4 linked regions of the Homo sapiens genome follow. The main gene of each other region encodes a partner of the protein of the gene in region 4 in a complex. Each region holds a gene or a part of one and is shown on either strand. Other genes may lie near its edges. A codon is read from its position in the direction of its gene.

Evidence for each region.
Region 1: the proteins of AEBP2 (region 4) and JARID2 are in contact, whole or in part, in a cryo-EM structure (PDB 8VNZ), measured with the Homo sapiens proteins. Residues at the interface, in NP_001107648.1 of Homo sapiens: Arg407, Ala410, Ile411, Asn414, Leu415, Glu420, Ser421; in NP_004964.2 of Homo sapiens: Ser148, Lys151, Pro152, Lys153, Thr154, Glu155, Asp156, Leu158, Thr159.
Region 2: the proteins of AEBP2 (region 4) and EZH2 are in contact, whole or in part, in a cryo-EM structure (PDB 8VMI), measured with the Homo sapiens proteins. Residues at the interface, in NP_001107648.1 of Homo sapiens: Lys382, Leu383, Lys384, Asn385, Arg387, Arg388, Ser390, Leu391, Pro392, His395, Asp399, Ala400, Gln401, Asp404, Ala405, Arg407, His408, Ile411, Cys412, Leu415; in NP_001190176.1 of Homo sapiens: Ser76, Leu77, Arg78, Gly79, Thr80, Thr100, Asn102, Ala103, Val104, Ala105, Ser619, Asp620, Val621, Ala622, Ile739, Glu742, Met743, Glu744, Ile745, Pro746.
Region 3: the proteins of AEBP2 (region 4) and RBBP4 are in contact, whole or in part, in a cryo-EM structure (PDB 8VMI), measured with the Homo sapiens proteins. Residues at the interface, in NP_001107648.1 of Homo sapiens: Asn378, Lys379, Phe397, Phe398, Asp399, Thr402, Ala405, Ile406, Arg409, His476, Ser478, Pro490, Asn491, Ile492, Tyr493, Arg494, Thr495, Met496, Pro497, Arg500, Lys502, Arg503; in NP_005601.1 of Homo sapiens: Ala6 (codon at 4,600), Phe8 (codon at 5,197), Asp9 (codon at 5,200), Asp10 (codon at 5,203), Val12 (codon at 5,209), Glu13 (codon at 5,212), Glu14 (codon at 5,215), Arg15 (codon at 5,218), Val16 (codon at 5,221), Ile17 (codon at 5,224), Asn18 (codon at 5,227), Leu45 (codon at 5,308), His71, Gly106, Gly107, Phe108, Gly109, Glu126, Asn128, Arg129, Glu179, Tyr181, Glu231, Asn277, Lys317, Asp318, Phe321, Thr338, Asp339, Arg340.

Annotation. Positions count from the first base shown.
Region 1 is NC_000006.12:15,242,186-15,249,083, reverse strand, and holds the start of JARID2 (protein Jumonji), read right to left. Parts: upstream 3,016-6,898; 5' UTR 2,545-3,015; coding exon 2,500-2,544; intron 1,270-2,499; exon of another isoform or gene 940-1,269; intron 575-939; exon of another isoform or gene 388-574; intron 230-387; exon of another isoform or gene 120-229; intron 1-119.
Region 2 is NC_000007.14:148,881,276-148,888,606, reverse strand, and holds the start of EZH2 (histone-lysine N-methyltransferase EZH2), read left to right. Parts: upstream 1-4,315; 5' UTR 4,316-4,443; exon of another isoform or gene 4,444-4,671; intron 4,672-5,121; exon of another isoform or gene 5,122-5,410; intron 5,411-7,331. UniProt on the Homo sapiens protein: Polycomb group (PcG) protein. Catalytic subunit of the PRC2/EED-EZH2 complex, which methylates 'Lys-9' (H3K9me) and 'Lys-27' (H3K27me) of histone H3, leading to transcriptional repression of the affected target gene.
Region 3 is NC_000001.11:32,646,723-32,654,222, forward strand, and holds the start of RBBP4 (histone-binding protein RBBP4), read left to right. Parts: upstream 1-4,485; 5' UTR 4,486-4,584; coding exon 4,585-4,600; intron 4,601-4,633; exon of another isoform or gene 4,634-4,710; intron 4,711-5,191; coding exon 5,192-5,339; intron 5,340-7,500. Other genes in the region: ZBTB8OS (protein archease), read right to left, coding at 3,711-3,843. UniProt on the Homo sapiens protein: Core histone-binding subunit that may target chromatin assembly factors, chromatin remodeling factors and histone deacetylases to their histone substrates in a manner that is regulated by nucleosomal DNA.
Region 4 is NC_000012.12:19,434,773-19,442,493, forward strand, and holds the start of AEBP2 (zinc finger protein AEBP2), read left to right. Parts: upstream 1-4,719; 5' UTR 4,720-4,927; coding exon 4,928-5,598; intron 5,599-5,826; exon of another isoform or gene 5,827-5,932; coding exon of another isoform or gene 5,933-5,955; intron 5,956-7,721. UniProt on the Homo sapiens protein: Acts as an accessory subunit for the core Polycomb repressive complex 2 (PRC2), which mediates histone H3K27 (H3K27me3) trimethylation on chromatin leading to transcriptional repression of the affected target gene.

The sequences.
Region 1 (6,898 bases), on a different chromosome or scaffold from region 4:
GGAAGTGAAAACATTCCTGCAGAAAGGAGGCGCCTCCTCCCCGCTCCCCGCTTCCCAAGTGGCATCAGAACAGGGTCCAGTGGCACTCCTTTGGGGACCTACGGCTCCCCGGCCCTCACCTGGTGGGAAGCGCGACGCTCCGGAGCGGAAGGCAGAGGCCGAGCGCATCTTCCTCCTCTTCCTCCTCCCACGCCGCAGCCCGGCTCTGCGGCAGCCCCCGCCCCCGCCCAGCTCCCTCCTCCCCCCGCCGCCCCGCCGCGCCTGGAGCCTCCCGCCCGACTTTTGACGTCACGGAGGAGGAGGGGAAGGTTCCACCCGAGCCCGTCCCTTTGTGACGTCACAATGACAACAGAGTGCGGCCGGGAGCGTCGGGGAACCGAGCGCCGCGGGGGGCGGAGGGAGGGAAGAAGGGCTGGGGCGCCGGCGCGCGGCGGGGGAAGAACCGGGGGGCGGAGAGGGGGCGCGCTGACGTCTCGCCGGCTTAACCTGTTGCTCTCGAGACTGCGTCGGAGCCCGCAGGCAGGGCCGCGGGAAGCCGGCCGGGCCGCCGCCGCCATGCTCGGCCGTGTGCGCGGTGGGGGGCGCCCGCTGCAGCTGTGCGCCGCGCGCCCCCTCCCCGGCACGCCCACGCCCCCGCCCCCGCTCCCACCCCCTCCCCGCGCGCTCTCCCCTCCCCGCGCCCCGCAGGCCGCGCCACCCCCGCGCCCCACCCGCCCTCCTGCCCGCCTGCAAGCCGGCCCGGGTAGACCGGTGCCCGCCTCGCGCGCCCGCCTAGAGCCCGGAGTATGCCCCCTATAGGCCGCGCGCGCGCGCCCGCCCGCCCAGCCCCGGCCCAGCCTGCCGCGACCCCCGCGGGCCGTCCCTTTCGCAGCCGGCTCGAGGACGTCGGGAACACCGGCTCTGCTCCCGGTGCATTAACTCGTGCCGTGCCTCCCGCAGCCGCCGCCAGCCACGGGCTTGCAGCCGGACGCCCGGACTCGGAGACACGATCCGCTGAACGCCCGCAATAAGAAAGAAAACCCACCCCACGCTGCTCTCCACCTCAACGAGGTCCGGAATGGGAGGCGGGGTGCGGTTCTCGTCCAAGTTCTACCCCATTTGCTTTGTGGCTGCATCCGAAACGGACGTGCCCCGGGAAGGCGTCCACGCTCCAAGACAAGGTTGCCTCAGTGCAGTTTCTACAGCCCGAGTTTAAACTAGTCCTTTGCATTCTACCCAGCCCTCTGCAATGCGGATGTATTTTAATTCTTAAATTCTTTATGGAACAGCTTTCTAAGTTGGGCTTGATTATTTAACCTTGCATTTCTTTCATAGTTGAAGTTGACGTGTCTAGATAAGGATCAGCTCTCTTGAAGAGGCATTCAGCTTTTCCATTAAATATATTTTTTTACAAAACCAGTGCCCCGAAGGTCATCTCTCATTACACACACCACAATGATCAAAAAGGGAAAATATTAACACCAATTTGTCTACCCAACTTAAATAAACTTTCCTCTTACGTTGCATTATTCCTAAGGTATGTTCATTTGGCCTTTTTTGAAAAAAAAAAAGAGTTATTTAATTTAAAGCATGCAGCTAATCACAGATCACTCGAGTGCATATTTGGTTAATCCCTCGGTCCCCCTTTCCTCCCTCCCCTCAAACTTAAAAAAAAAAAAAAGCCACCACACACAAAACAAAAACACTCCCCATGCCAATCAAAACGTAGCTGTACTATGCACAAAACAAATTTAACTATTCCAAGCCATTTAAATCTAGGAATAATCACCCAATTTCAGAAGCCCAGTTAACAGGGAGAAATTATTTGTAGTTACTTACATATGCATTCACGTACACACTTAAAAACATTAGCCATAGTGTGTGTCCTTTTCCCCTACAACTGGAAACCATGAATTTTTTAAACAAAACCAGCCTCATTATTAAAGTCAATCCCAACAAATGCATTCGCTGTAACATGATTCCCAACTGGTTTATGTTGCAAACCAGATAAGCCAAAACGACCACAGACATTAAATTTGATGTGCCAGTGCAAAGAGAAGATCGCCATAATCGGACCCTCGATCGCAACTTAAAGGGCTTCCAACACACATGCGTTACACGATTTTTCCAAATAACATTAATAATAATAACACAGGCTCATTTGCATGCAAAGTGCAATACGGGGCCAAATCCGCTTGAGAATGCAGTTTAGTTACATTACCGCAGCCACCCCCCACCTCAAGCTCCACCAAAATCCCTTGCCTTTCATCTAAAAGTAGATTATGGTTGTGTCATTCGAGGTCAATTTATTCACTTGAGGTATCTCTACACCAGTCTGTTTTTTCAACCAAACTAGGCAGACACCACTTTGCTTGAAAAGCCCTCTTTCAGAAAAAAAAGAAACAGCCTTATCGGACGCTGTGTTTAAAACCCTTCAGAGGCAGAATTATCTATAAACTTGACATTCACAGCCATTGCTTAAAACTGCAAGTCAAAGGATGTGTTGTTAGGAGCACTTACGTATTTCTTCTGAATGATATTCCTCTTGGGTCTTTCCTTGCTCATTCTGAGATCCAAATGCTGATTGCAAAAGGGGACAATTGCTTCATGAATTTAAAGCCGTCAGAAATTTGCAAAAAAATATCCTGGTGGTTTTTATTGTTGTTGGTGGTGGTTGATCTTGTAATCCGACTTTTCTTCCTCTTCCCCCAAAGCCAGATTCGCCTTGAAATAAATCCGAAATTGGGAAGGAAAAAAAAAGAGCCAAAGACGAACGAAGCAAACAAAAAAAAATTCACTTTAGTAAAACACTCATAATGGAAAATTTCCCCCGAAACACATACACACACACACAAAAAAAAACCGACGCCCTTCACTCCCCCCCCTTTTTCCTCCAAAAACTACATCAGCGAAACGTGAAGGTCCTTAGTGTCTGATCCGTAGTTACATCTTGGAAAAGAAAAGGGAAAGATAAATAAAAAATGTTGGAAGTCACGTTTGTGCTGCAGCAGCAGTGCGAGCAGAAGAGTCAACTCCAGCGGCGGCGGCGGCGGCGGCGGCAGCACCACAGCGAGGGCTCGCCGAGTCTCTTTTTTCCAAGCCCCCTAACCAATGAGAGAGAGGCTATCCAGCCCAACTTTAAATGGACTCTGCTTTTATACAAGTTAGGGCTCCTCGGATAATTCCCCGCCGGGCGCCAGCCGAAAACTCCCACCGCTCAGCCGCCAGGCGCCCGCTTAGCCTGGTGCCGACCGCCCCTGGCCCAGTCCAGGGCACCCCCGCAGCCTGGCCAACCAGACACCCGAGCGACCTCGACGAACCCCTCCCAGGCAAGCCCTCGGGCGTCGCTCCCACGCCGAGCCCAGGCGTGGAATTGAGAGAGGCTCCCTAGCTCAATGCATGGCACGCTCCGTCGCTCCACCTCACCCCCTTTCCCCTGCCTGCCGCTCACCCCACGGCCGCCCCACGCCAGCCCCCGCCACTGCCTTCGCGTCTACCTGCAGCCGGGCTGCTGGGTAGGAGTGCCCCAGGACGCCCGGCCCCGGGGAGAGCCGCCTATTCCCGGGGCACCTTAGAATGGTCCCCTTGATCTTCTGGAAGTTGTAGTCCCCCGACTACAAAATGGCTATGGCCACGGAAGCTGGGAACTACAATTCCCAGCCTGCCCCGCAAAGCCTGTCACTCAACTCCCCTCCCTCCTCCTCGCCCCCTCCCCCTCACTGGCCGTGCCAACAAACGCTTGGACGTGTCCCGCGTGCGACACTGCTAGAGGCTGGCTCGGGATTGGCCCGCGGAGCGTGTGGTCCGCGAGCGAGGAACTCCCCACGCCGGCCCTCCTCCGCCCCCCGGGCCCCGGCCCCCCTCCCCTGGCGGCCGCCAGCCCCCTCCCCGCGCGCCCCGCCCCCACCCGCGGCGCGAACCGCCTGTGGAATCGAGGAATCGCGCGCGTGCGGCCCGGAGCCGCGGGGGAGGGACGCGAGGCTTCCCCGGGGAAGGCCTCGGAGCGTGGCGGTGAGGGGGGCGGTGTCAGGGAGGGGTTGGAGCCCGTCCTAAGGAAAACTGGGCCACGCACCAAGAGGAATCCTCGGTGCGAACTAGTTGATCGGCGGCGCCTGCTGCTTGTGCCGTGCAGCCGGTGTCACCTCAGGACAGCGCCTCGCGTCTGTGTACAGAGCGTGCTGCGGGCGCCTAGGGTAGTCCGAGGTCACCCCTCTCCGCGCCCCGCAGTCGCGCACGCCCCCACGCGCGGGGTGGGCGGTGGCCGGGGGTCGCCGAGTGGAAAGGCCACGCCCCCCCACGCCCGGGCTCGGCACGCTGCCCCTGGGTCGCGAACGCGCCTCCGCTCGACCCGCTTGGAGGACGTCGCTGGTGGCCCAGGAGTGAAGCCCCGGCGGCTGCCTCCTGAGAAAAGATAGCCGTGTTTAAAGAGACTGAACGGGATCTTTGCTTTGCCGGGCGTATTTTGTGATAAAATACCACAAAATGTTGAGACAAAAATGAGTGGAATATGGAGACCGAGCCGCACAGACACGCAATTGTAAGGAAACATCTCGAACACCGAGTGCCAGGAATATCAACTGTCCGGGCCACGCAAGAGCCTGCTTTTTACCTGCCTCCAGCCCCCTGTCGTGCTGGTTTAATCGCTGAAACAAATGAAGTAGCAGGCCCTGGCATAGCGCTTTGGGCCTTCGCCTTATTAACAACTTTGTCAAGTCTCGCATCGCGATTCTGCCTTGTTAATTTCCTTGTTTTTCGCTGTGGTTTTGGAGAAGCAATGTTTTCCATGATCTCTCAGGCTAGCCTCGGAATAAAACGTGGCAGAAGCGCTCCCGCGAACACATACCCATATATTTTATTCTACCTATTCCCTAGAGTCTGCTAACTTCAAAAGTCTAGATACTCACACAGCTGTTTACTTGCAGCAGTATTTGAAGAGATAACCTTGGTGTCTAGAAAGGTCTCAGAAACTGGAGGTAAGAGACCTGGATTCAAATCGCGCCTTGGCCACTTCCCAAAAGGCAACCGAGAGCCTCTCTGAGCTTGTCAGTTTCCGCATCTGCAAATTAGTGGTGATCAAACCTGTGGGGATGATTATGTGATAAATAACAGTAACCTAGTTTAAAACTAGGCACGTTATTGGAAGCTTTCAGTAAACGAAATAAAAAGCCTTTTCGAGAGGGTATTTTCCTTATTATTTTTACCTTTTCAAAAAATCTGAAATGAAATAATTTTATCTAATGTTCACTTCACAATTGGAAAAATAAATGATCTTTTGTGCCCTGAATACTGCAAAACTTGTACGCTGGTGCCATTTCCTGGGAAGGATCCAATGGGGCAGACTACAGTAGGGCCACCCAAGGTGTTTTCTAAAAACTTTCTGATCATTAGGACTGGCATACTGGGAATCTCCACGTCTCCACGTTGTTAAGATTTTAACCAGCTTTCTGTAAGTTTAACGCAGATACCTCATTCCCTAGGCAAATATTAATGAACAAAGGTGAGTTTCTTTTCTGTTCCCCTAACTAGCCCTGGGGCCTGGACTTCTCAGTCCTGGGCTTGCGAACTCCCCTGCCAGGCTACCAGCTCCAGGTCACCTGGTGTGAAAAACTATTGTGTAAAGTTGAGGCCTCAGGGCAGAGGGGAAAGGAAGGAATTTGCTCATTTCCAAAAGATTTGAATAATATTAGTGTTGTTTTCCCTGAAAGAGAAAAAAGGTTGGCCTTCTTAGTGGTTGAAAGATTTTCCTGTTGTGAAAGTAACCTACTCCTAATGAACTTCCTTCCCCTACCATCTTGGCAAGACCATCCAAGGCTTTTCTTGCTCCTTCCTCCTCTTTTTCATTTTCTGTAAGTCAAATGCAGCTTTTCTTATGATGATTTTCACATCTCAAAGCCTTGACCTCTTCAATTGGAGGGGCAGGGATGAGAACATGTCTAGGTACATTGATTGTATTAGACTCTATGCCAGCACTGTCCTCATCCCTGAGGACACAGGAAGCTCACAGCTCAGTAAAAAAAAAAAAAAAAAAAAGGCAGAGTTTACAATGGATTGTGATACCTCCAAAAAGTACTATATCAGCAATGTAGAAAAGAAGCTAAAAAGAACACATTGCTGAGATGACTAGGTGTTAAGGAGTTTTGAAGTAGGTGTAGGGGTTCACATACATACTTAAAGAAGTGCATATTTCACCCCTTTGCATTGCATCCTATTTGTTTACATTCTCCACTTTTAATGTTTCTAGTTCTTCTCTCCAAGTAAAAAGGAAATTCCCTAAAGAGATGATGTTGTCTACTTCTCATACCCTCCAAAGCTCCAAAAACTTCATCAAATTTGAAAGATGTCCAGTAAATGCTTACTGTTGAATATTTCACCAAAACTATAATGCCCAACTATTTAGACTATTGCCCAACATTTAGTCTCCTACCATCATCTTCCATTCCATTCTGGAACTCTGCTAGTTTTCCTCTTGCATTATCTAAATCCAATGTAGTGTTATACGTTCTTCAAGGCCCCAAATTCAGGCCCATTTCCAATCCAGCCTCGCTGCTTGGCCTACTCATTCCTGGATTCTCATTGCCCTTCCTATTTTGGCAATAATTTTTGAGCTTTAAAATTTTATTCTGAGGCCGAATGTGGTGACTCACATCTGTAATCCCAGCACTTTGGAAGGCCGAGGCAAAAGGATCACTTGAGCTCTGGAGTTTGAGACCAGCCTGGGTAACATGGTGAAACCCTATCTCTACCAAAAAAAAAAAAAAAATTAGCTGGACGTGGTGGCCCAGGCATGGTAGTGTGCACCTGTAGTCCCAGTTACTTGGGAGGCTTAGGTGGGAGGATGGCTTGAGCGGGAGGCTGAGGTTGCAGTGAGCTGACATTGCACCATTACACTCCAACCTGGGTGACAGAGAAAGACCCTGTC
Region 2 (7,331 bases), on a different chromosome or scaffold from region 4:
GTTTTTCTTCATATGTCACCTTCAAAATGAGGGCTTCCTTAACCAAGTGGCTTTTAAAAAATTATTTTATTCCCAGGCTGGAGTGCTGTGGTCCCATCTCACTGCAACCTCCGCCTCCCAGCCTCAAGCGATCCTCCCACCTCAGCCTCCAGAGTAGCTGGGACTATAGGCACCATGACCGGCTAAGTTTGGTATTTTTGGAAGAGATGAGGTTTCGCTATGTTGCTCAGGCTGATCTAGAACTTGTGAACTCAAGTAATCCTCCCATCTCGGTCCCCAAAGTGCTGGGATTACAGGCGTGAACCACCACATCCAGCCCCAAGCTGTTTTAAAATTACAGCAATTGCACCCAATACTCCCCTCTTCCCATGCCTTATTTTTATCACCACCTCATGTTCGGTATAATCATCATTCACAGAGTAAGCACTCCATAAATGAGTGCTGTATAATATGTGGGAAGTAAATCCCATTTTTGGGGTTGAAAGGGAGGTTCTGAGAAGTGAAGGGATGGAAAGGGAAGTTTGCTGGCTGACAGCCTTAACTTTGCACTCCATCTTCTCCAGTTCCCCCAGGACAACCCTGAGAATCAGCTATGTGCCGGGCACGCTAGGCCCTGGGGTTACAACTTTGGGGCTTAACTGTTTTTCGTTTCATCTTTTAACTTTAATACCAAATCTTTGTTGTTCACACAGAACAATCTTTACAGAAATGAAAAAGCTTGGTGACCCTCAACCTCCATATCCACCTTTGTGTTTAGCCTGGCTTTCTGCTTCATCTAGGCCCCTTGAGTAACTGGCATTCACACACACACTTGCTTATATGTTTACTATTCATTACACACATTAAAAATTTTTTTTCCCATTGAAATAGTCATAGAGGTCTGTTAAATAGGCCTGTATATTTTCTTGCTTTCCTGGGTTAGACATCTTCAGACAGTTTTTCTTTTGGTAGCAAAAGCAAAATACTTCTTCCCCCTCCTAACTTTGCTGTATTTGTCATATACGGAAAGGAGTCGCGAGACATCATGAACCCCACATACAATGAAGTCCTTCTGGAATATTTTCAAATTATCCCCTTTTTCTGCCATTACTGTGGCCTAAACTACCTTGCTTAAATGGACAATGTCATCATTGAATCAAGAAAATACTGTGATCCACTGGCATCCCTTTTCACCTTAGCCTTCATATCATATTTATATTAAATGTCTGTTATATATATTTAGTATCATCCCACCTAGCTCTTTAATGGTTAGAGTCCAACCTACACACTCTTCCCAGTGGGAATGGCTGCTCTATAAAGTTCTTTGTACGTGTTTTTTTTTTTTCCTAACATTCACTTGGTGCCAATAATTATATTTTGTCCAATCACTTTTTTTTTTTTTTAAAGAGATAGGGTCTCACTCTGTTGCTCAGGCTGGAGCACAGTGATGTGATCATAGCTCACGGTAACCTTGGGATCCTGAGCTCAAGCAGACCCCTCACCTCAGCCTCAGGGGCAGGTGGGACCATAGGTACTTCTGTGCCACCACACTCAGTTATTTTTTAAATTTCTTGTAGAGATAGGGTCTTGCTATGTTGCCCAGGCTGGTCTCGGAGCTTCCCACCTCGACTTCTGAAAGTACTGGGGTTACAGGTGTGAACCACTAAGTCTGGCCTGGAATATCTTGATCCATCCATTCCTTGATTCTAAACGTCTAGCAATTTACATGACATTTCACACCATGTTGCAGAGTTATATACTGCTTTGATTTGCTTTATGGTAGTCTCTAATTTCGTTGATCTTCCTCTTAAAAATGCCTTGTTTTAATATTTAGTATTACAGGACTGATAAGTTCAGTAATTTGATAAGCAACTTAGGGATAAGTAGTTAATTTCTGAGGTTTAAATTGCTGGTTTTAAAAAATTGTAAATTGGTGGCCTAGACAGATGCATTTTATCTTGGAGAATGAATGTATTCGTGACTGGAAGTAATGGCAGCTATAATTCGTTACGTTATTTTACAGTCACATCTCAGCTGCATAACCTATTTACTTTTTGCAGTGTTATCACTGATTCACAAGACAATTTTGCTTTTATCTGGGCACATGATTGCTTGTTTCTCCTTATCTTTTAGCTTCCCTTTATATATACTTTCCAACATTGGAGTGATTCAGAATATATGTGAGGAATGGGATGGTGATTTAGGAAAGGCGGGAAAATTATGGGCTAAATCATCTGATGAAAAATTCTGGCCCAGCGCAGTGGCTCACGCCTGTAATCCCAGCACTTTGGGAGGCCGAGACGGGCGGATCACAAAGTCAGGAGATCGAGACCATCCTGGCTAACACGGTGAAACCCCGTCTCTACTAAAAACACAAAAAATTAGTCGGGTGTGGTGGCAGGCACCTGTGGTCCCCAGCTACTCGGGAGGCTGAGGCAGGAGAATGGTGTGAACCCGGGAGGCGGGGCTTGCAGTGAGCTGAGATGGTGCCACTGCACTCCAGCCTGGGCGACAGTGTGAGACTCCGTTTCTTAAAAAAAAAAAAAAAAAAAAAATTCTGGCTAGTTATTAAATTCATTAAAAATATTTCTTCAGATTTTTACCCCAACAGTTCATAGGTGACCTTTTTTCAGTTTCCAGTATGAACTCTCAATATGGAATCTCAGTTTACATGACAATGGTATTTTACCCCATAGATACATCCTAGTAAAAATAAATTCGGAATACTCTTAACTGCATTGCCACATGAAGCAATAGGAGAGACTGTATCCTAAGCAGAATCCCTCTAATTCCTCTGGGTTGAGGTAGCTTGACCCCCCATAACCAAGATCAATTTTTTTTTTTTTTTTGAGATGGAGTCTCGCTCTGTCGCCCAGGCTGGAGTGCAGTGGCGTGATCTCGGCTCACTGCAAGCTCCGCCTCCCGGGTTCACGCCATTCTCCTGCCTCAGCCTCCCGAGTAGCTGGGACTACAGGCGCCCGCCACCACGCCCGGCTAATTTTTTGTATTTTTAGTAGAGACGGGGTTTCACCGTTATTAGCCAGGATGGTCTCGATCTCCTGACCTTATGATCCGCCCGCCTCGGCCTCCCAAAGTGCTGGGATTACAGGCGTGAGCCACCGCGCCTTGCAAATATCCTCACACTTTGCAGAGGCGGCAAGTGAACAGTGCTCATCTTGATAAAGGATTTTTAACACTGACACGTGCTTAGAACTACGAACAGTGGAAGGGTCTGAAATGGCAGCAATGTCGCCCTTTCACAGGTTTCTAGGGCGATAAGCACTGCAAGCTCGGCCAGCCAAAGTCCAGCGGTGGGGGAAAAAACGGCCAAGGCAGCAGCAGACATAATCAAACAGGGCCCGGGTCGGCGGCGGTGGCTCACGCCTGTAATCCCAGCACTTTGGGAGGCCGAGGCGGGCGGATCACCAGAAGTCGGGAGTTCGAGACCAGCCTGACCAAGACCCGTCTCTACTAAAAATAGAAAATTAGCCGGGCGTGGTGGCGCATGCCTGTAATCCAGCTACTCGGGAGGCTGAGGCATGAGAATCGCTTGAACCCGGAAGGCGGAGGTTGCGGTGAGTCGAGATCGCGCCATTGCACTCCAGCCTGGACAACCAGAGCGAAACTCCGTCTCAGGAGAAAAAAAAAAAAGTAGTAACGGGTCCGGCGGCAGCGCGCGGGCCGGGCGAGCGTCTCCCGGCAAACGCGGCGCCACAGCTGAGCCGACCTCCGGGGCCCGCGCCCTCCCCTCCCCGGGCACCACTAGGAGCGGCCAGCCCGGGCCTCGGCTCCGCGCGCGGGGAAACGAGCGCGGCGGTTAAAACCGTTACCACCCCCGAGTTTTGAACTGGTTCAAACTTGGCTTCCAGCACCCGCCCCGCCCCTCCCCCGCCCGGGAACTCTGCGGCGCCGGTTCCCGCCAAGAGCCGCCGGCGCTTCGTCCCGCCCTTCGGCCGGTTCCCGCCACCTATCCTCCCCGCCTCCCGTCCGCGGCGGGCTCCGGGCCCCCGCGATGTCTCCCGGTCCCCGCGTGCCTGCACACCGCCTTCCTGAGAGGCGCCGTGTGTTCAGCGAAAGAACAAAGAGACGGCGGCGGCGCTTCCACACGGCCAGTGGCGTCCCTTACAGCGAACCCCGCCGCCGCCCGCGCGCGCACGCGCTGCCAGTGCCCGCCCGCCCACGAGCCCTGAGCGCACTCTGCGTGGGGCTGGCTCGGCGCCTCCGAGCCCGGCGGGCCCTGTGATTGGACGGGCGCCCGCCTCGCGTCCCGCCAATCGGGGCGGCGCTTGATTGGGCTGGGGGGGCCAAATAAAAGCGATGGCGATTGGGCTGCCGCGTTTGGCGCTCGGTCCGGTCGCGTCCGACACCCGGTGGGACTCAGAAGGCAGTGGAGCCCCGGCGGCGGCGGCGGCGGCGCGCGGGGGCGACGCGCGGGAACAACGCGAGTCGGCGCGCGGGACGAAGGTAACGCGCCGCTGCGGGCGGCCCGGCCGGCGGGGCTCCGGGAGTGCGAACCGGGCGGCGGCGGCGGCGCCAGGACCTCCCCGCCACTGCTGTGCCGGTCCCGGGTATCGCCGAGCGGGGCTCACCGGGGCGCCGCGTTTGTAGGCGTGCGGGGGGTGGAGGGTGAGGGGAGAGCCCCCCTCCCCGGAAGGAGCTGTGAGCTTCGGGCTGGCCCGCGGGACCCTGCGAGTGAGGCAGCGCACACCCCTGGAGCTGCGGGGCGGGGGGCGTGTGGGGGGCTCCTTTCCCGGTGCTTGTCCTGGCCGGGGCGCCGGGGCCGGGGTCGGGGCGTTCCGGTGCCCGGTCCAGGGTGGCAGCTCGAGCCTCAAGTCTCCTTTGTGTGGCGCGGCCGCGGCGGGAGCGCCCGGGTGGGACGGGACAGACACAAGTTGGTGGGACCCAGCCGCCGAGTCCGCACTCAGACAAAGGACGGACTGTGTCTCCGGAGGGCTCGGCGCGAGGGGAAGGGGCATGACACCCGGGCCCGCCGGCGGGCGGGAGAGGGGCGTGGGGAGGCGCGGGCCGCTGCCGGGGTGGGCAGGGCTCGGCCCTCGCCTCGCGCACGCCCCCGGTCCCGGGCGCGCCGACCCCGGGCTGGGGCCGCGGCGCTCGCGGGACGACGTTCGCGGCGGGGAACTCGGAGTAGCTTCGCCTCTGACGTTTCCCCACGACGCACCCCGAAATCCCCCTGAGCTCCGGCGGTCGCGGGCTGCCCTCGCCGCCTGGTCTGGCTTTATGCTAAGTTTGAGGGAAGAGTCGAGCTGCTCTGCTCTCTATTGATTGTGTTTCTGGAGGGCGTCCTGTTGAATTCCCACTTCATTGTGTACATCCCCTTCCGTTCCCCCCAAAAATCTGTGCCACAGGGTTACTTTTTGAAAGCGGGAGGAATCGAGAAGCACGATCTTTTGGAAAACTTGGTGAACGCCTAGTGAGTTGCCACTTTCTAAAGAATCGTAATCCTTAAACATTACAAGCTGTTTTGGCCAACTTGTGTGATACATCTGAGAATGGCGACAGGTGCTAACGAAATCAACTGTCATTCAGCCAGATTATTCCCCAAATCCCGACGGGTTGAATGAGGATGAGGTGGTAGAAGTAGGTGATCAAAATAGAATGGCTATGACAAATGTGTGTTTAGATTATACGGTTAGCAGTTTCTTATTAATTGGTCTCGTTTTCTGTGAACAATAGCTTTGGTGATTCAGAAAAGACTGCATGGAGAAATGTTTGTTGCCTAAGAAATTTAACGTGTGCTGTCCACAGTTAAACTTCCTTTATCACACAGGATCTGTAACATTTAAATTCATTTGGAAATAAAAATGTGTCTTTGCTATTTACTTAAAGGCTTGCTTTTTAGGGTTCAAGCAAGTTATTATTAGTTTAATTTTGTGGCGTTTTGATGTCATCATAAAACAGCATTTAATAAACCTTTGAAAAACACGAATGCTGTCACAATTGAATGTAGTTTATACTTTTAGGGGTTTTGGAGTTTATTTTCTATTACTCTTCATAAGCATTAGCAACTAATTCATGTTTAGGAATACTGTACAAGTGTGTAATCCTAACTTGTTTATTTGTAATTTTATTTGCAGGAAAACAAGTATTTAAGATATATTTTAATTTTCTATTCATGGTCTCTAAAGTTAGGAATAGGTAGGATTCTAGTCATAGATATAAAGCGTCTTGTTCTCTCTTTTCGGAGGTGTGTTGGGTGATGTAATATTTAAGGTTTCCCGGAAACAGGAACACTGCATCTTAAATTCTCGTTTTTGTGGAAAGTGAATATATTCCAAGAAAACAAGTTAGAAAAACATAGGCGTTCTTCTGGTTGCACTGTCCTATATGATAAAGATCTAATGTGCATCTGCTAACTTAAGGTTTCATAAAAATGGAGACAAATAAATGCAATATAAATTTATTACATATATTTTGGAGAGTGTTGACACCACTGTACGGGCATTCCAGGTGCTGGTCTAAGTGTTGAGACATTATAACAAAAAAGTAACGTTTATATTAGTTACTATTAATTCTGTATTTAAAAAATCCTATTAATAATCTTGTCCATTATGAGATAAGGTAGTTATGCAGATTTTTGGCAGAAATTCGGATATTTTAGGATACATATGTGTGTGTGTGTGTGTGTGTGTGTGTGCGCGCGCGTGTGTGTGTGTGTATATGTTTTTTTTTTTTTGAGACAGAGCCTTGCTCTGTCGTCCAGGCTGGAGTGCAGTGGCTGGATCTGGGCTCACTACAATCTCTGCCTCCCGGGTTTAAGGAATTCCCCTGCCTCAGCCTCCCGAGTAGCTGGAACTACAGGCACGCACCACGACACCCGGCTAATTTTTGTATTTTTAGCAGAGACAGGGTTTCACCATGTTGGCCAGGCTGGTCTCGAACTCCTGACCTGAAGTGATGTACCCGCCTCCGCCTCCCAAAATGCTGATCCAGACGTGAGCCACCACGCCCAGCCTAGGATAAAAATTTCTAACTTTGCCCTTGAGTGTTCTCTGTATTTGATAATTACTATTCTTTGTACTTGCCATGAGATATTTTGAAAAACATCTCTTTGGGGAATTGGTTTAAAAATTCATATTAAATTATTTTCTGGTACAATTGAGAATGTATTTAGTCAGTTTAAGTAGCAGTGACTTAAAACACACTTGTTGATCTAGTGTAGTTAGAAAAAGTTCTGATACTTTGATACCTAGCTTTGCCTTGCACAAATACATTTAAGTGAATATCTTTATGTTGGCCATTTAAAAATTTTAGGCAAATTTCTCCAAGTCATACTGGAATTTTCCCAGGATACCTTCCTTCTTTTGAGGTAGTGTGCTCAAGGATTCTGAATT
Region 3 (7,500 bases), on a different chromosome or scaffold from region 4:
TTCTTATCTTAGAAGCCATAAAAAAAAGGGTTGGCCGGGAGTGGTGGCTCATGCCTGTAACCCCAGCACTTTGGGAGGCTCAGGTGGGCGGATCACTTGAGGTCAGGAGTTCAAGACCATCCTGGCCAGCATGGTGAAACCCTGTCTCTACTAAAAAAAAAACACAAAAATTAGCCGGGTGTGGTGGTGGGCACCTGTAATCCCAGCCATACGGAAGGCTGAGGCAAGAGAATCACTTGAACCCAGGAGGCGGAGGTTGCTGTGAGCTGAGATGGTGCCACTGCACTCCAGCCTGGGAGACAGAGCAAGATACTGTCTCAAAAAAAAAAAAAAAAAAAAAAAAAAAAAAAATGCCAGGCGTGGTGGCTTACGCCTGTAATCCCAGCACTTCGGAGGCCGAGGCGGGCGGATCACCTGAGATTGGAAGTTCGAGATTGGAAGTTCGAGACCACCCTGACCAACATGGAGAAACCCCATCTCTACTAAAAATACAAAATTAGCCAGGCACGGTGGTGCATACCTGTAATCCCAGCTACTCTGTCTCAAAAAAAAAAAAAAAAAAAAATTAGCCAGGTGTGGTGGTGCATGTCTGTAGTCCCAGCTACTCAGGAGGCTGAGGCAGAAGAATTACTTGAACCTGGGGGGCAGAGGTTGCAGTGACTGGAGATCATGCCACTGTACTCCAACCTGGATGACAAAGCGAGACTCTGTCTCAAAAAAAAAAAAAAAAGAAAAGAAAGAAAGGGTCAATGCAGGGGGTCCCCAACCCCCTGGCCAGTACCAGTTGGTGGCCTGTTAGGAACCAGGCAGCACAGCAGGACATGAGCTCACAAAGCTTCTTCTATATTTACAACAGCTCCCCATTGCTAACATTACTGCCTGAGCTCCACTTCCTTTCAGATCAGGCACAGCATTAGATTCTCATAGGAGCTTGAACACTATTGTGAACTGCACATTGAGGGATCTAGGCTGTGTGCTCCTTATGAGAATCTAAAGCCTGATGATCTGTCATCCCCAGATGGGACCATCTAGTTACAAGAAAACAAGTTCAGGGCTCCCACTGATTCTATATTACAGTGAGTTGTATAATTATTTCATTATATATTACAACGTAATAATAATAGAAATAAAATGCACAATAAATGTAATGCGCTTGAATCATCCTGAAACCATCCTCCCCTACAACCCCCGTTGGTGGAAAAACTGACTTCCGTGAAACCAGTCCCTAGTGCCAAAAAGGTTGGGGACCGCTGGTTAATGAACTGCATTGCATAAAAACACTTTCTGCCTAGTAAGAAAAACCAACAACCCAAGACAAAAAAAAAATAACCCAAGAGAAAAAAGGGCTAAGAATATTAACATACACACCCCAGAATGGGAAATACAAATAGCTTCCAAAACAGTATAATATGTTCAACTTCACTTACAATAAGAAAAATACAGTAAGTATACTTTACAAATTAGAAAAGATAAAAAAGTATGGTAACAATTAGTAGAAGTGGGAGGAAAGAGGCACATTCACACAATACTAGTGAAAGTATAAATTGGTACAACTCCTATAGAGAGCAATTTGGCAATAACTGTCCAAGTTAAAATATCCTTTTAAAAAATGTAGGAGTCTTAGCAATGGAAACAAAAAAAACTTGGAGAACTTGATTCTACAGATTCACTTGCACATGTACAAAACAGTGGATGTACAAGTGTATTCACTGCTGCACTGTTTCTAATACCACAAGAGTAGAAATAGCCTAAACGTCCATCAACTGAAAATTGGTTAAAGCAAATGCTAGAACATCTAGGTATGTACATGTAAGAAAAAGGTAACGATGACTGCTCTACAGAGGGGGACTAGGTAGTTGAGGATGGGGGCTGCCAGAGTTACTTTTCACTGCCTATGTTACACTTTCTGAATTTCAAATCAATATATATGACCTATTAAAAATAATTTTTTTTTGAGATGGAGTCTGGCTCTGTCGCCCAGGCTGGAGTGCAGTGGTGCAATCTCGGCTCACTGCAACCTCCGCCTCCCAGGTTCAAGCGATTCTCCTGCCTCAGCCGCCCAAGCAGCTGGGATTACAGGCACCCACCACCATGCCTAGCTAATTTTTGTATTTTTAGTAGAGATGGGGTTTCACCATGTTGGCCAGGCCAGGCTGATCTCAAGCTCCTGACCTCAGGTGATCCACCCGCCTCAACCTCCCAAAGTGCTGGGATTACAGGCGTGAGCCACAGCACCAGGCCTTTTTTTTTTTTTTTTTTTTTTTGAGACAGTCTCACTCTGTTGCCCAGGCTGGAGTGCAGTGGTGTGATCTCGGCTCACTGCAGCCTCCACCCTCCTGGGTTCAAGCAATTCTCCTGCCTCAGCCTCCCGAGTAGCTGGGATTACAGGCGCCCACCATCATGCGCAGCTAATTTTTGTATTTTTAGTAGAGACGGGGTTTCACCATGTTGGCCAGGCTGGTCTGGAACTCCTGACCTCAGGTGATCCACCCACGTCAGTCTCGCAAAGTGCTGGGATTATAAGTGTGAGCCACCGCAAACGGCCTATAATATTTTAAAATTGTTTTTAAGTGAGAGAAGGGGATATGCTAGGAGGTATGCCAGCTCCAGAAAGCACATTGCCTAGAATACTATGGTAAATAAGTAGATTTTACAGAGAGGACAATGAGAAATTAATGAAAGATTTTAAGCAGATAAATAAAAGTCAGATTTGTGCTCCCCAAACCACAGCTACCTTTAGGGATGACAGCTTAACGTTTAATATAGAATTTAAGAGACAAAGATAGGTTATGTGATTTGCCTAAAGTCACTAAGCGAATAAATGGCAAAACCAGCTGGGCACTGCAGCGCGGGCTATGATCGCTCCATTGCACTCCAGCCTGGACGACAGAGCGAGACCCCATCTCTAAAAACACACACACACACACACACACACACACACACACATTTTTTTTTTTTTTTGAGACAGAGTTTCGCTCGTTGCCCAGGCTGGAGTGCAATGGGGCGATCTCGGCTCACCGCAACCTCCGCCTCCCGGGTTCAAGCGATTCTCCTGCCTCAGTCTCCCGAGTAGCTGGGATTACAGACATGCTCCACCACGCCCAGCTAATTTTGTATTTTTAGTAGAGACGGGGTTTTTCCATGTTGGTCAGGCTGATCTCGAACTTCCGACCTCAGGTGATCCGCCCGCCTCGGCCTCCCAAAGTGCTGGGATCACAGGCCTCAGCCACCGAGCCCGGCCTAAAATAATCATTTTTAAAAATCACAATCATAAATGGCAAAACCAGGTTTTTTGCTAATATGATCGAGGTGAAACATCAAGTTAGAAATCCCCTAATTAGCTTTCCGAGTCCTCTAACCTCGCACACTCTAATCTCACCGTTGGGAAATACATGGGGGTAACAACCCTGCAAACGCCTGAAAATATGGTTATCTTTAGAATTTACGAAGATAAATGTGATTAGGCACATGTGGAAGAAGTTCAAGAGACTGTAAATGAGGGAGGCCAGGTTTCGCGACTATTAAACCAGGTGGCTTTTTCCTTCAGCATCCCCAGGAGAAGTACGAACGCGACTACAACAGCCGGCACAAATGGGATCATGCCTGAAGTACCCATGGGGCACAGTAGAAAGAGCAGCAGGAAGCCGCGGGTAAGGAGAGGGGATGCCTGTGTGCTTACATGTAAAGAGAGAAGTAAGCCACCTACTCACACTCGTACTTCCTATTGACTGGCGGATACTTGGCCTTGATCGCCTTCTGTTCTTCAGTCAAATTGTAATCTCTAACATCTTCCTCTTCCTGCGCCATGACTGCAGGATTAGACACTCTACTTCCGCCCTTCATCCACCGGACTTCGGCCCGGAGTTACTACTTCCGCTCTAGACTCCGCCCCTTGGCGCACACCCTTAAAGGACCACACTCCTTTCTCGGAGTTGGCTGTTGACCTACTTTAGTCCCTACCCTGCCGCTTGGATCGCATATTTAAAAAGCCAAAACCCCATCTTCTGCGATTCCTTCATTACTAGTTCTTTCCAAAGACTAAGGAAAAACGTTGAAGGGCACCTTGAATGAAACCCGTCTGGGTCTGACTGGCGAGGTTCTTTCCCCCGCTTCACCCCCAAAATTGATAACTAGACCCGAAGGCATTCTAGATTTTTCATCTCAGTACTCTGAAAGGGTCGTAAGCTTAATAGCCTTCAAGAAAATGGCTGCCCTCTTGCCGCGGGAGTGTGCGGACCAAACCTCTCTCACGTGACCCTGACCGGGCGCAGTCCCGTCAACGCCGGCGCGCGCAATCGCTGGAAGTCGGCTCGGGGAGGCGTGGGGGGAGGGGCGGAGCGCGCGCCTCGGTCCCCGCGGAAAGCTACTCCGCGCGTCTGGATTGGTCGCGAACGCGGCTTCCCCGCCCATCCCGCCATTAGGAGCGCTCCCATTGGCTGATGTTGGCGCGAAGGTGCGCGAGTCAGCCCTCGCGCTGGGGGCGCAGGAAACAATAGAGGCCGCGCGCACAGAGCGAGCTCTTGCAGCCTCCCCGCCCCTCCCGCAACGCTCGACCCCAGGATTCCCCCGGCTCGCCTGCCCGCCATGGCCGACAAGGAAGGTGAGGGTGCCGGGGCCGACCCAGGAGGGCAGTGGGTGCCTGGGCTGAGCCGCGGCCTCGACATGGCCTAACAGTGAGGGCAGGCCCGAGTTTGCCGAGTGCAGTCCCCGGTACTGAAGGCGTGAAGAGGGAACTCCCCGCGGGGCGTGCTAACGGCTCGCCAGTTCCCTGGGACCGATTTCGGTCGCAGCTGGCGAAGCCAGCGGTGGGGCCCCCGGCCAGTGTTTGTTTCTCTTCCTGCCTCCGATATCGGTTTCTCGGCCTCTGTCCCGAGCGTGGGGACACCGCTTCCTACCCACAAGGCTCGGAGCTCGGGCCTCCTCGTCGGGCTTGTGAGTTTCGGCGCGCACGAGCGTGCTCCGAAGGCCTGGCTGGCCCCTTGGCCTGGAACGGGTAACGGAGTGTTTGGCGGGGATGGCCCGAGGAGTTTCGGCGCCGCGAAAGTGGAGAGTGTGGATGCCTCTGCCGTGGGGATTTAGACAAATCACCTCCATTTCATGGTTAGGCTGTAGGAGTCATGCAGGTGGCTTTGCAGAGGATTACTCGGTTTCCGTTTGTTTGCTAACTTAAATTTGTTTTTAAAAATTTTAGCAGCCTTCGACGACGCAGTGGAAGAACGAGTGATCAACGAGGAATACAAAATATGGAAAAAGAACACCCCTTTTCTTTATGATTTGGTGATGACCCATGCTCTGGAGTGGCCCAGCCTAACTGCCCAGTGGCTTCCAGATGTAACCAGGTGACATGACTCTCCCGAACGTTATTTTGATGTATTTTCAGTGTAGATTTCTCATATTGATTTTCTTTTTTCCGCTCTTCAGTCACCCGGAGAAGGCATGTGATCAAAACCTCTTGGTGACATTTTTTCTAGGCCACAAAGTAAGGCAAAATAACAAAATGATTTTGTAACTTACCTGACAAGAGAAAACATATTGGCGTTTTTTTCTCAATACTGAATTAAATAGCTGTAGCTGATGATAATACCTGTAATAATAGTGGCTGTACCAAATAATAGTACAAAACTTGTCAACTTTCAAAAAGTATTATGGCCAGGAGCAGTGGCTCACACTTGGAATCCGAGCACTTTGGGAGGCCCAGGCAGGAGACTTACTTGAGGCCAGGAGTTGGAGACCAGCCCTGGGAATACCCTCGTCTCTACTGCCCCCCACACAAAAAAAGAAAAAAGTATTACAATGAGTCTAGTCCTTACAACAAAAATTTTTTGTTTTTCTTTTTGAGACGGTGTCTCACTCTGTTGTCCAGGCTGGAGTGCAGTGGCGCGAGCTCGACTCACTGCAACCTCTGCCTCCCAGATTCGAGCGATTCTCCTGCCTAAGCCCTCCCAAGTAGCTGGGATTACAGGCACCTGCCACCACGCCTGGCTAAATTTTTTTGTATTTTTAGTAGAGACGGGGTTTTACCATGTGGGACAGGCTGGTCTCCAACCCCCTGACCTCTGGTGATCCGCCCGCCTCTGCCTCCCAAAGTGCCGGGATTACAGGCGTGAGCCACTGCACCTGGCCTCAACAAAACTTAATTTGAATTCTCGTAGTATGTCATGGTACCTGCCTTCAAGGAGCACATTGTCTAGTTGAAGTGGCAGATATAAACTAATAATTATAGTTATATATGGTGACAGCAGTTGTAGAGAGATAATTAGGGTACCTAGAAAACACCTGAAGGTGGAATGGCTTTCTTATAAGGGGTTTGGGCATAGTGAGGGCTAAAAGATTAATCCTATGTTTCTTACGTGTAGGTAGCTTATCTCTAGTAGAGGGGATAAAATAGCTTGCATTTATTGGGGCTGTATTTGGTGCTACATATCGGGGATCCAAATTAGTTATAATTAGCATAAAAGTGGTACAGATAAAATTATCAGAGGAAGGAAAATTTGCCTCAATTTGCCTCATTTCTTAGGAAGAAATGACAATGCAAAAAACAAAGAGGAGGGTAAATTTAGATGATATTAACATAGTTTTAACAAGACCATTGTGCCATTTGGAATAATGGATTTTCTGGTACAAAAGTAAGTTTTCTGAATTACATTCAAAAGCGATTGTATGCTAAGTAAATTCCTTCAAAACTTGGATCTTTAAAAGTTAAGATAATTGCAAAATGTTATTAGACTATGATGTAGCTCAACAAATGATAGAAATTTGGCAGAAATTATACTAGTAACTTAAGAATGAGGCTGCTACCTTTACAGTGGCATAAGGAAAAATAGGGAAATGTGTCCTAGGGATGTTACACAAAACCATAGTAAAAACCTAGAAATTGGGAGTTAGAAGCTGCTTTGTGTGTTTTTTGTTTTCTGGTTTTTTTTTTTTTTTTTTTTTTGTTTTTGTTTTTTTTTTTGAGACGGAGTCTCCTCTCTTGCCCAGGCTGGAGTGCAGTCACGTGATCTCCGCTGACTGCAAGCTCCGCCTCCCGGGTTCACGCCATTTTCCTGCCTCAGCTTCCCAAGTAGCTGGGACTACAGGTGCCGGCCACTACCCCTGGCTAATTTTTTGTATTTTTAGTAGAGCCGGGGTTTCACCGTGTTAGCCAGGATGGTCTCAATCTCCTGACCTCATGATCCACCCGCCTCGGCCTTCCAAAGTGCTGGGATTACAGGCGTGAGCCACCGCGCCCGGCCTAGAAGCTTCTTTATCATGACCAGGAGTTCCCACATGCAATTGATCATCAGAATTGCTTGGGGAATTCAGGATAATTGGAATCATTTCTGTCAAGAGTTTTCAGTGGTAATTCAAACCATTTAGGAACTTATGGGCTGGTCATGGTGGCTCACACGTGTAATCCCAGCACTTTGGGAGGCTGAGGCAGGCAGATTGCTTGAGGCCAGGAGTTCCAGACCAGCCTGGGCAACATGGTGAAAAGCCCGTCTCTACTAAAATTACAAA
Region 4 (7,721 bases):
TGTTCTAAGGAGATGCATGCAGAGCAGTGATGTCTGCAACTAAACCAAGAGGAAGACAGGGAAACTCTCCAGTGATGGGAAACACAATTTTCTGCAAAATGCCAATTCCGAGACAGTTCATTTTAGTCTTCAAGTATAAATACCACAGCTAAAATATTCGTTTGTGGCTTTGATACTTGCCATTTCCATGTGTCTAATCTCCATTCACTTTTGACACTTTTTTTTTCCCTTAATAAATCCTTCACTGGAACTTTTCACACTTTTCATCCTATCTCCTATATATTAGATTCTACAGATGTACAATATAATCTAATCATATCATACCTTTATTAAAATATCTTAGTACATACCTGTCAGAACTTTTTTTTTTTTTTTGAGACAAAGTCTCACTCTGTCACCCAGGCTGAAGTGCAGTGGTGCTTGGCTTACTGAAAGCCTGGACCTCCCTAGGCTCAGGTGATCCTCCCACCTCAGCCTCCCATAGCTGTGTGCCACCATGACTGGCTAATTTTTTTTTTTTTTTCTTGAGACGGTGTCATGCTCCGTCACCCAGGCTGGAGTGCAGTGGCGCAATTTCGGCTCACTGCAACCTCCACCTCCCGGGTTCAAGTGATTCTCCTGTGCCTGGCTAATTTTTTTATTTTTTGTAGAGATAGGGTTTCACCTTGTTGGCCAGGCTGGCCTTGAACTCGTAACCTCAAGTGATTTGTCTGTCTCAGCTCTCCACAGTGCTGGATTACAGGCATGAGCCACTGTGACTGGTCCCCAACATCAACTTTTTATTCATGTCCTTCTTCAATCTAATATTTAACTATTTTTAGCTTTCTTGCCATGATTTCTTATGGTTAATTAACCTTGTCATGAATAAATGTTGATGCTTTTCCGTATATTGCTTCTCAGTTTGAGTTCCCCAACACAGAATTCTGTTCGCTCTTCAAAATCCAGCTCAAATTAATGAAACCAGATATAGTTATTGTATGTCTTACTATACACTTTGTCGAAATCCTACATTTTTCATGAAGCTTTCCTTGATTAACTCGGCCAAACATGAACCATAATCTCCAGGGCTTAACACAGTGTCTGGCACATACATTTGTTGGGGCTCAGAAAATGATACCCCAAAGTATGGTGCTTTGGCATGCTGAGTACTTTTGTCAGAGGTGTTCGAACCACAGCGACTCGCATCGTGAATACGGGATGGGTAAAATAAGGCTGAAACCTACTGGGCTGCATTCCCAGGAGGTTAGGCATTCTAAGTTAGGATAAGATAGCAGGTCAGCACAAGATACAGGTCACAAACTCCTTGCTGGTAAAAGGATGTGGTAAAGAAGCTGACCAAAACACACAAAAACCAAGATGCGATGTAAGTGACCTCTGGTCATCGTAGCTACTCATTATGTGCTAATTATAATACATTAGCATGCTAAGAGACAACTCCCACCAGTGCCTTGACAGTTTACAAATGCCATGCCAATGTCGGGAAGTTACCCTATCGTCTAAAAAATGGAGAAACCCTCATTTCCAGGAACTGCCCACCCTTTTCCTGGAAAACTCATGAATAATCTACCCCTTGTTTAGCGTATAATCAGGAGATGACCATAAAAGTGGCCAGCCAGAAGCCCTCAGTGCTGCTCTGTCTATGGAGTAGCCATTCTTTTATTCCTTTACTTTCTTAATAAACTTGCTTTCACTTTACTGTATGGACTTACCCCAAATTCTTTCTTGTGTGAGGTCCAAGAACCCTCTCCTGGGGTCGGGATCGGGGCCCCTTTCTGGTAACACTTTGTGTTTTCTTTTGTTTTCTTTTCTTTTTTCTTTTTTTTTTGGGGGGGGGATAAGGTCTTACTCTATTGCCCAAACTGGAGTGCAATGGCTCTTGATCACTCACAGTTCACTGCAGCCTCAATCTCCTGGCTCAAGCTGTCCTCCCACCTCAGCCTCCCAAGTAGCTGGGACTACAGGTGCACACCACCACACCTGGCTAGTTAACAACAAAAAAAAGTGTTTTGTAGCGATGGAGTTTCATCCCATTGCTCAGGCTGGTCTCGAACTCCTGGGCTCAAGTGATCCCCCTGCTTCAGTTTCCCAAAGTGCTGGGATTACAAGAGTGAGCCACTGCACCTGGCCCCCATGCTGAGTACTTTGAACTAAAGGAGATTGGAAAGCCTGAGAAGCAAAGTCTCTCACTGAACCTCTGTCCTGCTGTCTCCTATCCCTGTTACTCACCCTAGGCTAGTCATATAAACCAGAACTCCTTTCCCCACAAAGTAAGCCATGAAACGAAGAAAGGTCACTCTCTGCCTTCTCATTTGAAGACTCTCATTCCAGAGAAGTCTGCTCTATACCTGGGTGTGGAAGGAATGCTACACAGAGAGGTCAAGACGAATCTGGACAGGCCTTGCTGGGTTTCCACACTCAGTCTATTACTATTAGTTCATTCTCTTTTTGTACAATCACATTTCTACATGGATGTCCACTCTGTTGAATCTAGGCATACAAATGGACAGCTTTCTCTGGGTCTTTACTTCTGAAGGCTCCTGTGTCACATAAGACTTCCATTAAATTAATTTGTTACACTTTTCTCTTGTTAACCTGTCTTTTGTTGTAGAAGTGTTGGCCATGACCCTTATGATGGGTGAGGAAAGGTATGGAGTGCAGTGGCATGATCATGGCTCACTGCAGCCTCAACCTCCAGGGCTCAAGTGAACCTCCCACTTCAGCCTCCTGAGTAGCTGGGACTACAGGTGTGCCGTAGAGACAGGGTCTCGCTATTTTACCCAGGCTGGTCTCAAACTCCTGGGCTCAAGTGAGCCTCCTACTTTGGCCTCCCAAAGTGCTGGGATTACAGGTATAAGCCACCCTGCCGGCCTTCTGATAGTTTTTAATTTACAGTTTACAGTGTATTTCACTTTAATACATTCCTTATCTAAGATTGCCTTTGAGGTTTAAAATGTTGGAAGTTAATACCTTACATTGTATGTGCCTCTGAAGGTATCTGTAAATGATGTCCCATGTTATTATTTTTGCATTCCCTTAGAGGCAACATTTTATATAACAGTTGTCCAAAGGCCTAAGGCAGAGGATGTAATACTGGGTACTCACGGTATATGACGACTTTCCCAAATGGGAAATGAGCATGGAGGCTCTGTTTTCAGGCAGTCAGTTCTATCCTCATTTTCCTTGAGTAGAAGCATCCCTAAAATTGGCCTGAAAATGTGTCCTTGGGTCAGGGTGTAATGTGGGCTCTTTTCCAGTCTCCTTTCTTCCAATGACCTCTTCCCTACTTTACAAAAGAAAGGCATAATTCTTCCTCATGCTAAATCTTAGTAAGGTGCAATACCCGGTTATGCAAAAACCTCCAGGACACCAAAGAAAGGCACAATTGACTGGTGAATAAGAATGGGGTAACACATCCTTTCACAAGTCAGGTGGTTTTCAGTTGCTTGCTTTCAACAAGTTGAAAGAGAACCTAATCAGAGTTGTCAGCTGACAGATCATTAAAAGTATTTTTTCTTTGTTAGATCTTTATGCGATTTTTGGGCATATAATGCGAAAGGCATTCAAAGAATTGTGTGGCATTACTATAACAAAACTCCATTCATTCTCATCTGCTTTTTTTATGCGAACAAGTTTTCTCAACACTTATATCCATGGAATTGAAAACTTGGAATAGAACTGATGCTGAACTATTTCTCAAAAAAATCCATCCACTGAAGGTCATAATGTATATTAGAAAAAAGTCCACCCAAGTTCATTTCTGCAAGATGCATTGCCAATAAAATTTTGCTTTTGTGTTTAGTACTTACAAACATTTGAAATAGATTTGTTTTGATCGGTTGAAATAAGAGCTTTATGATCACAGAAAATATAAAAAACAACCCAGATACTTCAATTTATGTTCACATTTTTATTACAAGTAAGACGATCAAAATAGTTCAAATATAAAATATATTACTAGGATAAAATTCTAGAGGAGATATGCAACGTCAATATGAGTTCCAGAAAACAATATTTGGAAATTGTATTTTCCAAACTGTATTTTAAAAAAATGGATATTAGTGGGTGTTAAATCCCTATGGTATTTAGAATCCATTGGCTATACAGTATTTAAACAATGCGACAGATGAAATATTTATAAGCCGGAAAAATGTAGCTGTCATTCTAAACTGTATAAGAACATACACAGCTTTACGAAATTGTTTTAGAAGGCTCATGAAGTAAAAAGTTTGAGGACCCTGAACCAAGATGTTTGCTCTGGGTTCAGGATGTCAACATCTCCAGGGGTATTCAAACATAGGGTGTATTAAAACCTGTCGCCCTGTGTTGCGCATAAAAATTTAGTACCTTACACCGTAGTGTTTTAATTTTTGCCCATTTTAAACCGCTCTCTTCGTAGACTGTAGGCTCGTTCTATTCCTGGCTCAGCTCCTGTACAGAGGGGACACTCCTCAAACACCCCCGGAATGAATGAGTTTATCGTGAGAACTCGGAAGGCTGCTAAAATCCCCGGCCAGCGTTGGAGTTTTCAGTCCGCGTGTCCCTGGGCTTCGAAGCCCGGCAGGGCGTGGGAAGGCCCCGAGGAAACGCTGAGCACTTGCAGGCGCCGGGGCGGGGGCGGGGGCGGGCACTGGGCAGCGGGGCGGGCGCCGGGCGGGGGCGGGGGCGCAGAACCCGCAGCCGGGGGAGGTGCTGCCTCGTGCCGCCGCGCAGGCGCGCAGCAGTCTCCGTGTGAGTGCGCGTAGTCGCGCGCCTGTCCCCGCGCGGGCTCCGTAGCGCGTGTGCAGGCTGACGCAGCTCGCGGGCCCTCCTCCTGCTCTGCAGCGGCGTCGGCGGAGTTTTGGGCGTTTGGGAGGGGGGCGAGGGAGAGAGAGTCGAGAGAGGGAGGCGGCGGTGGGGAGGAGGAGGAGGAGGAGGAGCAGGCGCCGCCATGGCCGCCGCTATCACCGACATGGCCGACCTGGAGGAGCTCTCCCGCCTGAGCCCTCTGCCCCCCGGCAGCCCGGGTTCGGCGGCGCGGGGCCGGGCTGAGCCCCCCGAGGAGGAGGAGGAAGAGGAGGAGGAGGAAGAGGAGGCGGAGGCCGAGGCGGTGGCGGCGCTGCTGCTGAACGGCGGCAGCGGTGGGGGCGGCGGAGGCGGCGGCGGAGGAGTGGGGGGCGGCGAGGCAGAGACGATGTCGGAGCCGAGCCCCGAGAGCGCCAGCCAGGCCGGGGAGGACGAAGACGAGGAGGAGGACGACGAGGAGGAGGAAGATGAGAGCAGCAGCAGCGGCGGGGGTGAGGAGGAGAGTAGCGCCGAGAGCCTGGTGGGCAGCAGCGGCGGGAGCAGCAGCGACGAGACCCGCTCGTTGAGCCCCGGCGCCGCCAGCAGCAGCAGCGGGGATGGGGACGGCAAGGAGGGCCTGGAGGAGCCCAAGGGACCGCGGGGCAGCCAGGGCGGCGGCGGGGGCGGCAGCAGTAGCAGCAGCGTAGTCTCCAGCGGCGGCGACGAGGGCTACGGGACTGGGGGAGGCGGAAGCAGCGCGACCTCCGGGGGCCGGCGGGGCAGCTTGGAGATGTCGTCGGATGGGGAACCCCTGAGCCGCATGGACTCGGAGGACAGGTCAGTGCTCTGAAGCGTTTCCCCTTCCCTTCCTCCTCTTGAACTCCCGGGCCCCTCAGAGGGGGACCAAGGCGACGTTTTGCCGCGATCCCCCTGCTCCCCGAATCCTCGGCCCCTCCCCCAGACTCTCAACTCGGAAATCTCTCGCCGTCGCCGCCGCGCCCCTCTCGCAGCGCATCGCGGCTTCCAACTCTCAAACCGTTCCCCCCCAACTCTCCTTTCCCCGCCCTCTTTCCCCTCGGCGCTTCGCTCCTCACGGACCTCAGGACGGCTCTAACTCGGAAACAGTCCCCAAACGGGCCCAGATCCTCTGGCGGAGCAGAAGAGGGCCTTGATGTACACACGTCGGTACTCAAGGTTAGCTTCTTCCAACCGTGTTCGGGAACACTTGTCAGAACTACAATTGACAAGTGTTTCCAATATGGCTGGTCTCGCCTGGATTTAACAGAACTTCCTTGTCCATGGGAGAGACCCCAGCTATCACTTTTCTCTACTTAAACAAAAAAAGGACTGTTCTTTTATATTAAATCATTGCCTCCCAAATCCCTCATTTGTAGTCAGTCATGTGGTCTCCAACGTGATTTTAACAATCTTTTCTATTTGTTTTGGGAGCATATCTGGGAAAAAGTTTTAAACACGTATAAATGGTTGTGGAAAAGAATAGTGAATTGATGGCCTTTTAAGATAACTTTGCGGAATCAGAGAGTTGGAATCGTAACAAAATACAGTCTTGAAGGTACAACGTAGTTTGCGGCTTTATAGTAATGTTTCAACATGAGAGTCATGATTTTAAATGATAATATTTAAAGTCATGCATTGGAGAGGTCTCGGAAGGAATGAGTATTATTTTTCTTACTAAAGCTTGTTAGAAGTAACTGGAGAGTGACAAAAATGCGCATTTTTTCAGAACATTTAAAAAGTGTGATAGTGTATGTTTCAATTGTCTTATCATTACTTTTGATCTGTTTGGGTTAGTTGGTTTTTAATGTACTTTTAAAAAAACGAGAATCACATGCATATTATGCCACTTCTAAAGTGTATTAGCGTTTATTTTGACCATCTATGTTTTGACAATCACATTTTTTTTAAACATGCTCTCCAGAAAAGTATAGCAATGGAAATTTTAGTGGTCGATAGTGATTTTCATTTAAGAGTTTAATATTCTAAAGTTCTAGGAATTCTGATTAATTGATTAAAAACGAACACCTTAGTATTTAATGCTACAAGTAATACAGAGTCCTGGATATTTTGAAAATCTGGCATTAGATTCTGTTTGACATTAACGTCTAGTTAAGAAAATATCTTCGGGTAAAGTAGACTGTATAAACCTTAGAAAAATTGTGTTGAACTGTGTAGGCATGGGTAGGAAGGAGAATGTCTTCAAGAAAATTAAAAATTGATGTAAACTGCACAATGAAGCATGTGCTATTTTTACCATTTTATGCTCCTCTGATACCATTACATATCTGAAAGTTGACATTAGTTTATAAAATCAGCGTTTTTCATTTACTCAGTATACACGTATTATGCTTGCCTACCACTGTACAAATTAGATGTCTTCCATTTCATTCCCACAACTATGGTGCAAGATAGGTATTATTTTGACTTCTGTTTAACAGATGAAGAAGCAAGTTGAGTATCTTACTCAGGACAGTAAATACAGCATGGAAATGGTGGGCTGGATATGAGCAAAGGTTCTCAAGTCCCCTATTATTTCCACTGAAGAGTTAAAATAATTCGCCTTAAATAAGTTGAGGCCGGGCGCGGTGGCTCAGGCCTGTTAACCCCAGGACTTTGGGAGGCCGAGGTGGGCGGATCACCTGAGTTGGGAGTTTGAGATCAGCCTGGCCAACATAGTGAAACCTTATCTACATTAAAAATACAAAAATTACCCGAGAGTGGTGGCGCGCGCCTGTGTTCCCAGCTACTCGGGAGGCTGAGGCAGGAGAATCGCTTGAACCCGGGAGGCAGAGGTTGCAGTGAGCTGAGATGGTGCCACTGCACTCCAGCCTGGGCGACAGAGCGAGACTCCGTCTCAAAAAAAAACCAAGTGATATGTGTCAGAGTTTTGTTTTTAGTTAGTGTCCATTTACTACATCACTTCAGGAGACGAATTATTGGTT